Linked DNA regions of Homo sapiens: regions 2 and 3 are each reported to be linked to region 1. Evidence: microRNA targets listed by miRTarBase, many of them from high-throughput screens and not tested one by one. Region 1 holds a microRNA gene; each other region holds the end of a gene's coding sequence. Distances are between the middles of the regions.
Evidence for each region. Region 1 holds the annotated microRNA hsa-miR-4632-5p (GAGGGCAGCGUGGGUGUGGCGGA, at 1,714-1,736, opposite strand). A microRNA usually pairs through its seed, bases 2 to 8, with sites in the 3' UTR of a target mRNA and lowers its output. Matches are read on the target gene's strand: a 7mer-m8 pairs with bases 2 to 8, a 7mer-A1 pairs with bases 2 to 7 and ends in A, and an 8mer does both.

Region 1 (3,000 bases):
GGCACCATCCCACCCAAATAATTTTTTAATTTTTTTATAGAGATGGAGTCTCGCTGTGTTACCCAGACTGACCTCAAACTCTTAGCCTCAAGCAATCCTCCAGCCTCCTTGGCCTCCCAAAGCACTGGGATTACAGGCTTGAGCCACTGCATCCAGCCCACGCACTTAGGGATTTTGAATGATAGCACCAGGTGTGGGGAGAAAGCAGTCTCACTGCCACCTGTATCCCAGGACAGGGCACAGGGTCCAGCCCCCCGTGGGCTCTCAGTAAAACCATGGGAGAGGAAGAAAGAGAGACAGAAAGACAGGCAGACAGAAGGAGTGAATGAATGAGACTTCTTGCGACTTACCAACTGGAAGAGCGAAGTCGCCAGTGCTCCCTTCAGCTGGGGGGCTGGGGCCCATTGGGAGCAGGAAGGAGGTGCTTGGAGCAGTGCTGGGTTCTGGAGTTGGCTGCGTGTGTTGGGATCGTGTGGACACTGGCTGGGGTAAGTGTACTGCCCCTGGGGCCATACTCCGGGTGGGGGACGTGGACGTGCAGACTGCATCCATGCTTGCATTCCCAGGGATGGCCACCACGTTACAGCTGGAGGAGGAGGAGGCTTGGTCAGGAGGCAGCAGGGGACAGAGTGGCTGGGGTGGCTGGGCTCATTCACGGGCCCCAGCAGGCAGGATAGGAGAGTGACGATGTGTGCCCTCTCTGAGGACCACCCCCTCCTAGCCCTCCCCCACCTCCCCATGCACCCACCCAGTCCTGCCTTCCAGGGCAAGGTCCTGCCCACCATGCCATTTATCCTGGGAGCCACCCTCAGATAAAGCAGTCTGGACAATGGTGGTTGGTGAGCTGCTCTGTGTCCTGGACCCACAGTCACCCAGGGACAGCCCCTCCCTGCTCCTCCAGAACCAAAGGACTCAGCTACTCACATCTGGTGGGGCCTGCAAATATCCGTGGATGAAGTCGTGTTGGAGAACGTCCCCGGGGCACAGGGCTTGCACACCACGTCTGATGTTTCAGTTCCTTCAGGGAACAATCCGAACTTGTCAACCACTCAGACACTCTGCGGGACAGCTGGGCCTTGGCACTAGAGCCCTAGGAGAGGTCTGAGGGGCCCAAGGAGCTCTGTCTGCACCTCCACCCCTTACACACACACACACACACACACACACACACAGATGCCTGTACACACATGCACACACACAGATTCCTGTACACACATGCACGGGATTGGGCTGTAGAGTTATGTGAGTTCATCTTGCAGCATCACATAACTTTCCTAGCTTAGGGCTTGGTCTGATCCATCTCTGGGTCTCCTGGTTCCAGTACATAAGAGGTGCCTAATCGGGAGTGCTGGCAGGAAGAATGAACGGTGGACAGGTGGACAGACGGATGGGTAGCAGGCACCTGGCCACCACTAACAGTGCTCCCTGCTGGACTAATTAATGGGTTGATGCCCGTGACACTGCAAGGATGTCTACAAAGGAGAGGCCCATGGGCGTCCCCAAGGACCTGAGCCCCACCCCGTACCTGGTCTGGCCACGCCGAAGCCCGGGCGGCACTTGCGCAGCGGCGCGCACAGCCGGCACCCCTCCTGCTTGCTCAGCGCGCAGTACCAGCCGGGCCTGCAGGTGCAGATGCGGTTCTGTTCCCGAGTGCAGGCTTGAGTTTCCACCTGGTCTAGAGCAGCGAGAGGGCGGCAAACGGTCACGCCTGCCTCCGCCACACCCACGCTGCCCTCCCAGACAGCCCAGCACTCTCAGACAGCGGATCTCCAGGAGGCTGGCGGACCGCCTCAGCATGGGGCACACACAACACCGGCCAGAGTCCAGGGGCAGGACCGGCAGTCCTGCTACTCTCCGCAGTCCCGCTACTCTCCGCAGTCCCGCTACTCTCCGCAGTCCTGCTCGTCCCCCGCAGTCGCGCTCGTCCCCCGCAGTCCCGCTCCTCCCCGAAGTCCCGCTCCTCCCCACAGTCCCGCTCCTCCCTGCAGTCCTGCTCCTCCCCGCAGTGCCGCTCCTCCCCGAAGTCCCGCTCTTCCCCGCAGTCCCGCTCTTCCCAGCAGTTTCGCTCCTCCCCGCAGTCCTGCTCCTCGCAGCACGAGCATGCGCACCACTCTCCCACGCACCACCTCCTCAACCCTCACGTGGGCACAGTTCTCCCACCGCCTGCCCCGTGGGGCTGTGAAGAGGCTTTGGTGAGACAGAGGAGGAAAATGCCAGTGGTAGGGGTAAACAGCTGCACCTGTGCCACTTCCAACAACCAGCCTGGGGTAACTCCAGACAGCTGGAAGCCAAAGAGGCTGGAGTTGCCGGGGGAAGTTGGAGGCAGGGGTGTAAGGGCCCCCTTTTTCTCTGAACCTACTCACCAGAGCTACAGCGGGAGCCACAGCTCAAGCACTCGGGAACCCAGTTCCAGAGCTGGGTGTATGTGCTGTCCTCACAGGAGTCACACACGGTGTCCGAGGTCTTGGTACAGAAGACTTTTGCATGTTGGCCTGAGGAAACAAGGGCCAGAGGTCTCAGCTGGGCGAGCCTTCTGCCAGGACCCTGGGCTCATCCACTGTCCCCACAAAGTCCAGAGTTCTAAAGCCCAGCTGGGAAGGCTATTCTGTGGAGTTCCAATTCCTCAGAATCATCTCCCATCTAGTATTGTACCAGCTATCACGTCATTTCTGAACCCCTTCTGCTCAAAAATAGATTCCTCTCTGCTCTTTCCAGATGCTTGAACCTCCACCACTGGAGCCCTATTATCAGTCAATCACACTTTAGTAAGAACTAGCTTGCCAGTTTCTTCCTTCTTGATAGATGGCTAATATTCTCCAGCTAGGGGCATGAATGATAGGGGGAACAGGTAGTAAGAATGTAGTCCCTGGTATCCTATCAAGGACAAGGGCATGGGCCTGGAAAGCAGGCATTCCAGGGACAGAGAACACCAACGGAAACCTTAAAAAAAAGTTGACTCAGTAGCTGCTTTTTTTTTTTTTTTTTTTTTTGAGACAGAAT
Region 2 (3,000 bases), not on the chromosome of region 1:
TTCGAATTAGAAAGATCACTTAAATTAAAAAGAGAAATTAAGTACTAAAATTAGGAAAACGCTGGATTTCTTTTGAAAGGAATCTTCAAGTACCAATACGTATAGAGAAATACTAATTTTGGTTACAGTTTCCTCCTTACTGTTAAATATACAAACTATAATACCTTTCAAAATAAAATACCCACATAAGATAGCTTTAATAAGAAATATTCAAGCCAGAACTTGGAAAAACATTAAGCAAGAAATTTACTGGGCTGATAATGTCTTAATTTGTGATCATTCAAACATTTGATGATGTGTCTCCTCTTGTAGACCCCAGGCTCTCTCCCTTTTGGTCCCCACAGTTAAGAGACATTCAGTTGGTTGTGCTTGAGACAACCTGTGATAATTTCATTCAGAGGAAAAATATTTTGCAATATAATGACAGACCAAGAAGGAAGAGAAGGTGGGTGCTCTGGAGAAAACTTATATGAGAAAAACACAAAATTATCACTTGAAAATAAAAAGATTTTTTTTTCCAAAGGAATGCTGCACCCATTTCACTTAAGATTAGAAATCCAGGTTAAAGGCACTGGGATGTACTCCTCACCATGAATAGACTCTCAATTACATTTATTCGCATGTCTGAGTCTATTGCAATCAGCCTGCTTGCTGAGTGCTTCCATGACACTCTTACATAAAAACCTAATGTAAATTAAACATGTTTGAAACCGTTTATAATGTAACTAGTTTTATAAAAATATCCAGAGTTGCTAATAAAGCACCAAGAAAAAGAGAACCTCAGGGGGAGGACTCAGATCCTTCCTACAAGGTCACCCTTTTATAATATTCTCTAATAGGACCTCCAGAATGACAACAGTCATCTTTGACATGTCCTACCTAGATAATCTTAGGGATGTAGAACATTGCTGTGGTGACTATACCCAAATGCCACTTTTCATTATAAATAGTTAAGAGACATGTTACAAGATTTCATGGCTTACTCTTAAAAAGGTAAAATAGGTGCAATTTTCCTTTAAGAAAGTCTTTATTTTATAATATACCATTAATATTTTGATGTTCCCTTCAGTAAACACTGATATAACTACACTGGGACTACCGAAGAACTGTGTAGTAGCTATGGTTATCTACAAATACTGTATTTTTTTCACTTGAATACAGTATTTGCACATTTAAAAAAAACATTGTACAAAATAAAATTATATAAATGAAAGCCTCAAAGAAATATCCATCACTAGGTCTTTGAGCTGAAGTGACCAAAGACCACAGTAAATGAAAACATTTCTAAACATGATGTAAACATAAATGAAGTAATGCAAAACATCAAGGTATTCAAATCTACTGTATTGCTATTTTCACCCTTAATGTATCTTTCTACATAGCTTTCTCCTTTTGGAACAGTAATACATGGGGCAGTACATTATTTTCATAACCTTATGCCATCAAATCAATTAATACAGATGCTTGACACATTTAATTATACAAAATCAATTTGCTTCAAGATACAAAATTAATGTTGATATGTAATTAATGAAAAAAATAAGATGTTAAAAAGATAACTATAAGAATATCCAGATATATGCTGTATTCCCACTTATATAGATCTGATCAATAAAACATCAACACATTCACTTAGATACTGATTTAATCCATGGATCAAGGCCATATTTTCAAAGTATTTTAAGGATGCCAGGACACTGCAAAAGCTGGAGAAAAGAGCTGAGGAACAACATATGCTTGCTAAACAAGAACTATGTTTATTTAGCTAGTGAATACCTAGAGTAATAAATTTTTACTTCATGATAGCAATCAGGCTCGCAAACACCCAGAAATAGGAATTAAGGGTTTTAAATGTAGTTATAAAGGTCATAAAAAGTCTGATTAGACTGAGGTACATTTACTCAAAATTTTGAGATTCATTAAGTGGTAGCAAACAAAATAATTCCTCAGACAAATGCACATTTTTCAGTATACATATTAATGGGGGGAGGAGGGAAGAAGAATGTGCATTAACTGGTGAAATCCACCAAGCTGCATATCAATATTCTGTTACACCAAACAGTTTGAAGACAAGGGAAATGTTCTAATATAATTTCAGATTATGTTTCATTTGGCTAAAATAGAGCTTAAGGTTGCTTTGCCATATTAAAAGTTTACTACAATAATTTTTCACATCAACATTTAGACTTGAACTCCAGGACTAAATATGGCATGATTATTTTGCTTTTAATCTGTCAAATAGCTAAAAATCGACAATTTAAAAACTACAACAAAGAAAAAGTTGAAGCAGTGTGACTCTTACATCATTGAACCACTTCTAATGGTTAACTGTTAGTATTTAACAAATTCAAAGAGTTAATGAATCCTTGCATTCATTCAGTCTTCTGTGCCTTAGCTAGGATGCATAATTACAAAAGACAGCAGATACTGGTAAAAGCTTCAGGACAGAAAGTGCTTGACGAAGTTACAGTTCTCAAGTGTGTTTGGTGAAGAGTATAAGGGCAGATGCGCTGATGAAAACCATTACGAGAAGAGTCAACTTTGTGTTAAAGTGTTCAAAGATGTCACCTTAAGCAGAAAAGAGCTTTAATACGTCTTCTTTGACTTATTAGGCATTTCCAGAGTCTACATCGTTAGTGTTGTAAATTTAACAGGACATCTTCATACGGTTATTGTTTGTTTCTATTTCTCTCCTGAAAAAAAAAAAACACACACACACAAAAAGAATTACAATGAAAAACTCTCATTATTTAAAGATTTAAACTATATGCACATATAATGTAAATCATCTCCATATAAAGTTCAAGTACTAATTCAAGTAATTAAAAACAATTGATAATTACCTCTATATACCATAGTGAGATTATTACCACAAAACATTTTACATAAAGAACTCTCAAACACAAAGACCTATTTCAGGAGAGTATAGATCCTCTCCACATCCCTATTGTTTGTTTATGATGAGAATATAATAACATCTTTTCAGTCCTTTCAAAGAGT
Region 3 (3,000 bases), 140 Mb from region 1:
TAGGAGGAATGGTGGTTAGCAGATGGCTGCTATTGTCAAGGAGATGGCGTCAGCCTCTTCCCTGGAAGGCACAAAGTAGAGTTCTTACTGTAGGATATGAAGACTTACGAAGGTGTCTCGCATCTGTTTTTTTACAGACAGGTGCAGTTCAGGAGCAGATGAGATCCAAGGGAAACCGAGATAGGCCATGGAGCAATTCTAGGGGCTTATAGCTCCAATAATGGAATGGTGAGTGATTAGAGAAACCCATCTAACACCTCAGCCCCCATAACAGCACAACCTGATACCCTGACTCAGAACCCTGATCTTATGCAAGAAAGGGAGGTGTGGCCGGGCATGGTGGCTTATGCCTGTAATCCCAGCACTTTAGGAGGCCGAGATGGGTGGATCACTTGAGGCCAGGAGTTCAAGACCAGCCTGGCCAACGAGGCAAAACCCTGTCTCTACCAAAAAATACAAAAATTAGCCGGGCACAGTGGCGTGCTCCTGTAGTCCCATCTACCTGGGAGGCTGAGGCATGAGAATCACTTGAACCTGGGAGGCGGAGGTTACAGTGAGCTGAGATCGCGCCACTGCACTCCAGCCTGTGTGATAGAGCAAGACTCTATCTCAAAATATAAAAAAAGAATGGGAGATAGGGAGGAATTAGAAGGGAAGATTCAAGAATGTAGGATCTAGGCCGGGCATGGTGGCTAACGCCTATAATCCCAGCACTTTGGGAGGCCGAGGTCAGCAGATGACTTGAGGTCAGGAGTTTGAGACCAGCCTGGCCAACATGGTGAACCCCTGTCTCTACTAAAAGTACAAAAATTAGCCAGGCATGATGGCACACGCCTGTAATCCCAGTTACTCAGGCGGCTGAGGCCGAAGAATCACTTGAACTCGGGAGGTGGAGGTTGCAGTGAGTCTAGATTGCGCCACTGCACTCCAGCCTGGGCAACAGAGTGAGATTCCATCTCAAAAAAAAAAAGAATGTAGGATATAGAAAGACTGAGAGGGTGTTGTGCAGACAGAAGTAAAGAACACACTGTGGAAATAGCTTAAAGTCTGCACTAGGTAGTGCCTTCTTCCTAAAGCCTTGGTTTTCTTTGAGGCTAATCTTCTTTAAGAAAAACTTTTTTTTTATTTCAGGTTCTGCCATCTTGAAACCCCCATTCTGTTTCCAGCCCAGAAGAAATGCTGCCCCTACCAGATCCCTCCTTGAACCAGTGATCTAAGGACCCCTCTTTTCCCTATCTGCCTAACAGTGCCTCACAAGGCTTGGGGGCTGGACTCCCTCTACTCCCTCTGGCCATAGCCCCTCCTGGAGATGGGGTCAAGGCAGCAGGACTGATCAAGTGACTACTGGTTAGCCAGAGGAGCTCAGCTGAAGCCCTGGAAACCCTCAGGTCTGAGATAGGAGTTCTCTAGGAACCTGGAATGAGTTCCTGTCTCCTGAATGATGGTCTGGGTGCCACCTGTTTTTAAACTCTTAAACCTGGAACTCCTTAAATGGGGTAGGTGGGTGAGATTATCAAAGCTGAAGCTGGCTTTGCTGAGAAGCTCCCTACCTCCCTGCCCTTCTCCTCCTTCCTGCTGGAATGAACTAAAGCAGATGTCAAGCAGGGGCTGGTGGGGGTGCCTACTCCCTTTTCCACTCTATCTTTAGATTTCAAACCTTAGGCTTACAGCCCCTCAATATCTCTCTGCTAACACCAGTGTCTCTTTCTAGTTAGGCCTCTAATCTTCTGTTTCTGTTTACCAGCTTCCCAGCAACTTTCCTTTTTTAAAATATTAAAAATTTAATTCAGGTTCTCTTAATTATCCTCATCCTGCTGTTGCCTCCGCCCTTAACTCTATCCCTATTAGGAACCTTGTTTCCCACCGAATAAGAGTTAAGGTAAGAGGTAGCTCTTCACCTGATGACATTCCATTTAAGTTTTGGGGCATCTTTCCTGCCCTCTGCCAACCTCCCTGCTGGCCCAGGTGAGAGGAGGAAGAGGGGTCTGGAAAGAAACCCAGAATGCGGCAGAACTAGGAGTAAGTCCATCTCAAGGTGGACTTCTGATCATTGAGGATGGTGAGATAAATAGGTTGAAAACAATCATCTGTGAGTTTAGGAGTCTTAAGATCCTCACAGCACGGGAGCAGGGAGAGGCTCTAGAACAAGGTTTCACAACCGAGATGCCTTTGACATTTTGGGCTGAAGTGTTCTTTGTAAGGAAAACCTGTTTCCTATTTTGTGCATTACAGGATATTTAGCAGCAACCCTGGCCCACTCTAGTTATGACAACCAAAAATGTCTCTATACATTGCCAGATTTCTCCTAGGGGGCAAAATCGCCTCCATTTGAGAACCACAACTCTAAAGTCAAGATATTTTTCTCTGAAGTGATTTCTGCTTGGCACGCTACCCTCATCATCTTACTCATCTTAAGCCCGAGCCATGGATCAACTAGGAGCCCATATAAATGAGGCTCAGTAGGGCTGCACATAATCTCCAAACAATTCTTTATTCAGTGTTTTGCTTGTGTTTGCATGTTGCTATGATGGACAGGTCCCCCTCCTCCATTCTTGCCCTCTGGAGAAGTGGTTCCTGCAGTGTAGAGATATGAACAGGGTATGGTAGGATTGGGGAAAGGGGAGAGAGAAGCAGTAGATACACTCCTTATCCTCCCCAAATTTTAAGCTCTATTTCTGTGCCCTAGTCCTAGACACACATTAGACTCAGGGAGTTTTGTCTGAAGACCAGGTCCCACTGCCCCCTGGCTGAAGAGTCTGCTTTAAATGGGAAAACAACGTAGGAGCAGGGGTTTTTAGGCACTTTCAGTATTCTCAGGTGTTCTTCGTTCTGGCCCTTCCAGGGTAATTAGGAAGGCAGAACAAGACAGATGAGCTCCTGCCTGCTCTGAGACAAGAAGGGTGGGGTCTCATTAGCTTTGCAACAGGAAACATCCTGTTTTATGGTAGTGGGGTCAGGAATGTAGGAACTGGTATCCATTCTGCCAATTCCACCACCCAT

Region 2: the mRNA of YTHDF3 is a reported target of hsa-miR-4632-5p. Seed matches in the 3' UTR shown: 7mer-m8 at 2,499-2,505.
Region 3: the mRNA of CDC42SE1 is a reported target of hsa-miR-4632-5p. Seed matches in the 3' UTR shown: 7mer-m8 at 1,555-1,561, 7mer-m8 at 1,935-1,941 and 7mer-A1 at 2,679-2,685.

Annotation. Positions count from the first base shown.
Region 1 is chr1:12,190,449-12,193,448 of GRCh38, reverse strand. MIR4632 (microRNA 4632) reads right to left here and starts at 1,736; the gene lies at 1,676-1,736. TNFRSF1B (TNF receptor superfamily member 1B) reads right to left here. Exons shown (of 10, transcript NM_001066.3): 3 at 2,364-2,492; 4 at 1,526-1,675; 5 at 925-1,018; 6 at 351-586. RefSeq lists an enhancer at 1,180-1,731.
Region 2 is chr8:63,209,376-63,212,375 of GRCh38, reverse strand. It overlaps YTHDF3 (YTH N6-methyladenosine RNA binding protein F3), which reads right to left. Exons shown (of 5, transcript NM_152758.6): 5 at 1-2,693. The coding sequence ends at 2,670. Among named protein-coding and RNA genes, the nearest start is that of YTHDF3, 42 kb to the right of the region's middle.
Region 3 is chr1:151,051,459-151,054,458 of GRCh38, reverse strand. It overlaps CDC42SE1 (CDC42 small effector 1), which reads left to right. Exons shown (of 5, transcript NM_020239.4): 4 at 138-228; 5 at 1,132-3,000. The coding sequence ends at 212. Among named protein-coding and RNA genes, the nearest start is that of C1orf56, 5.2 kb to the right of the region's middle.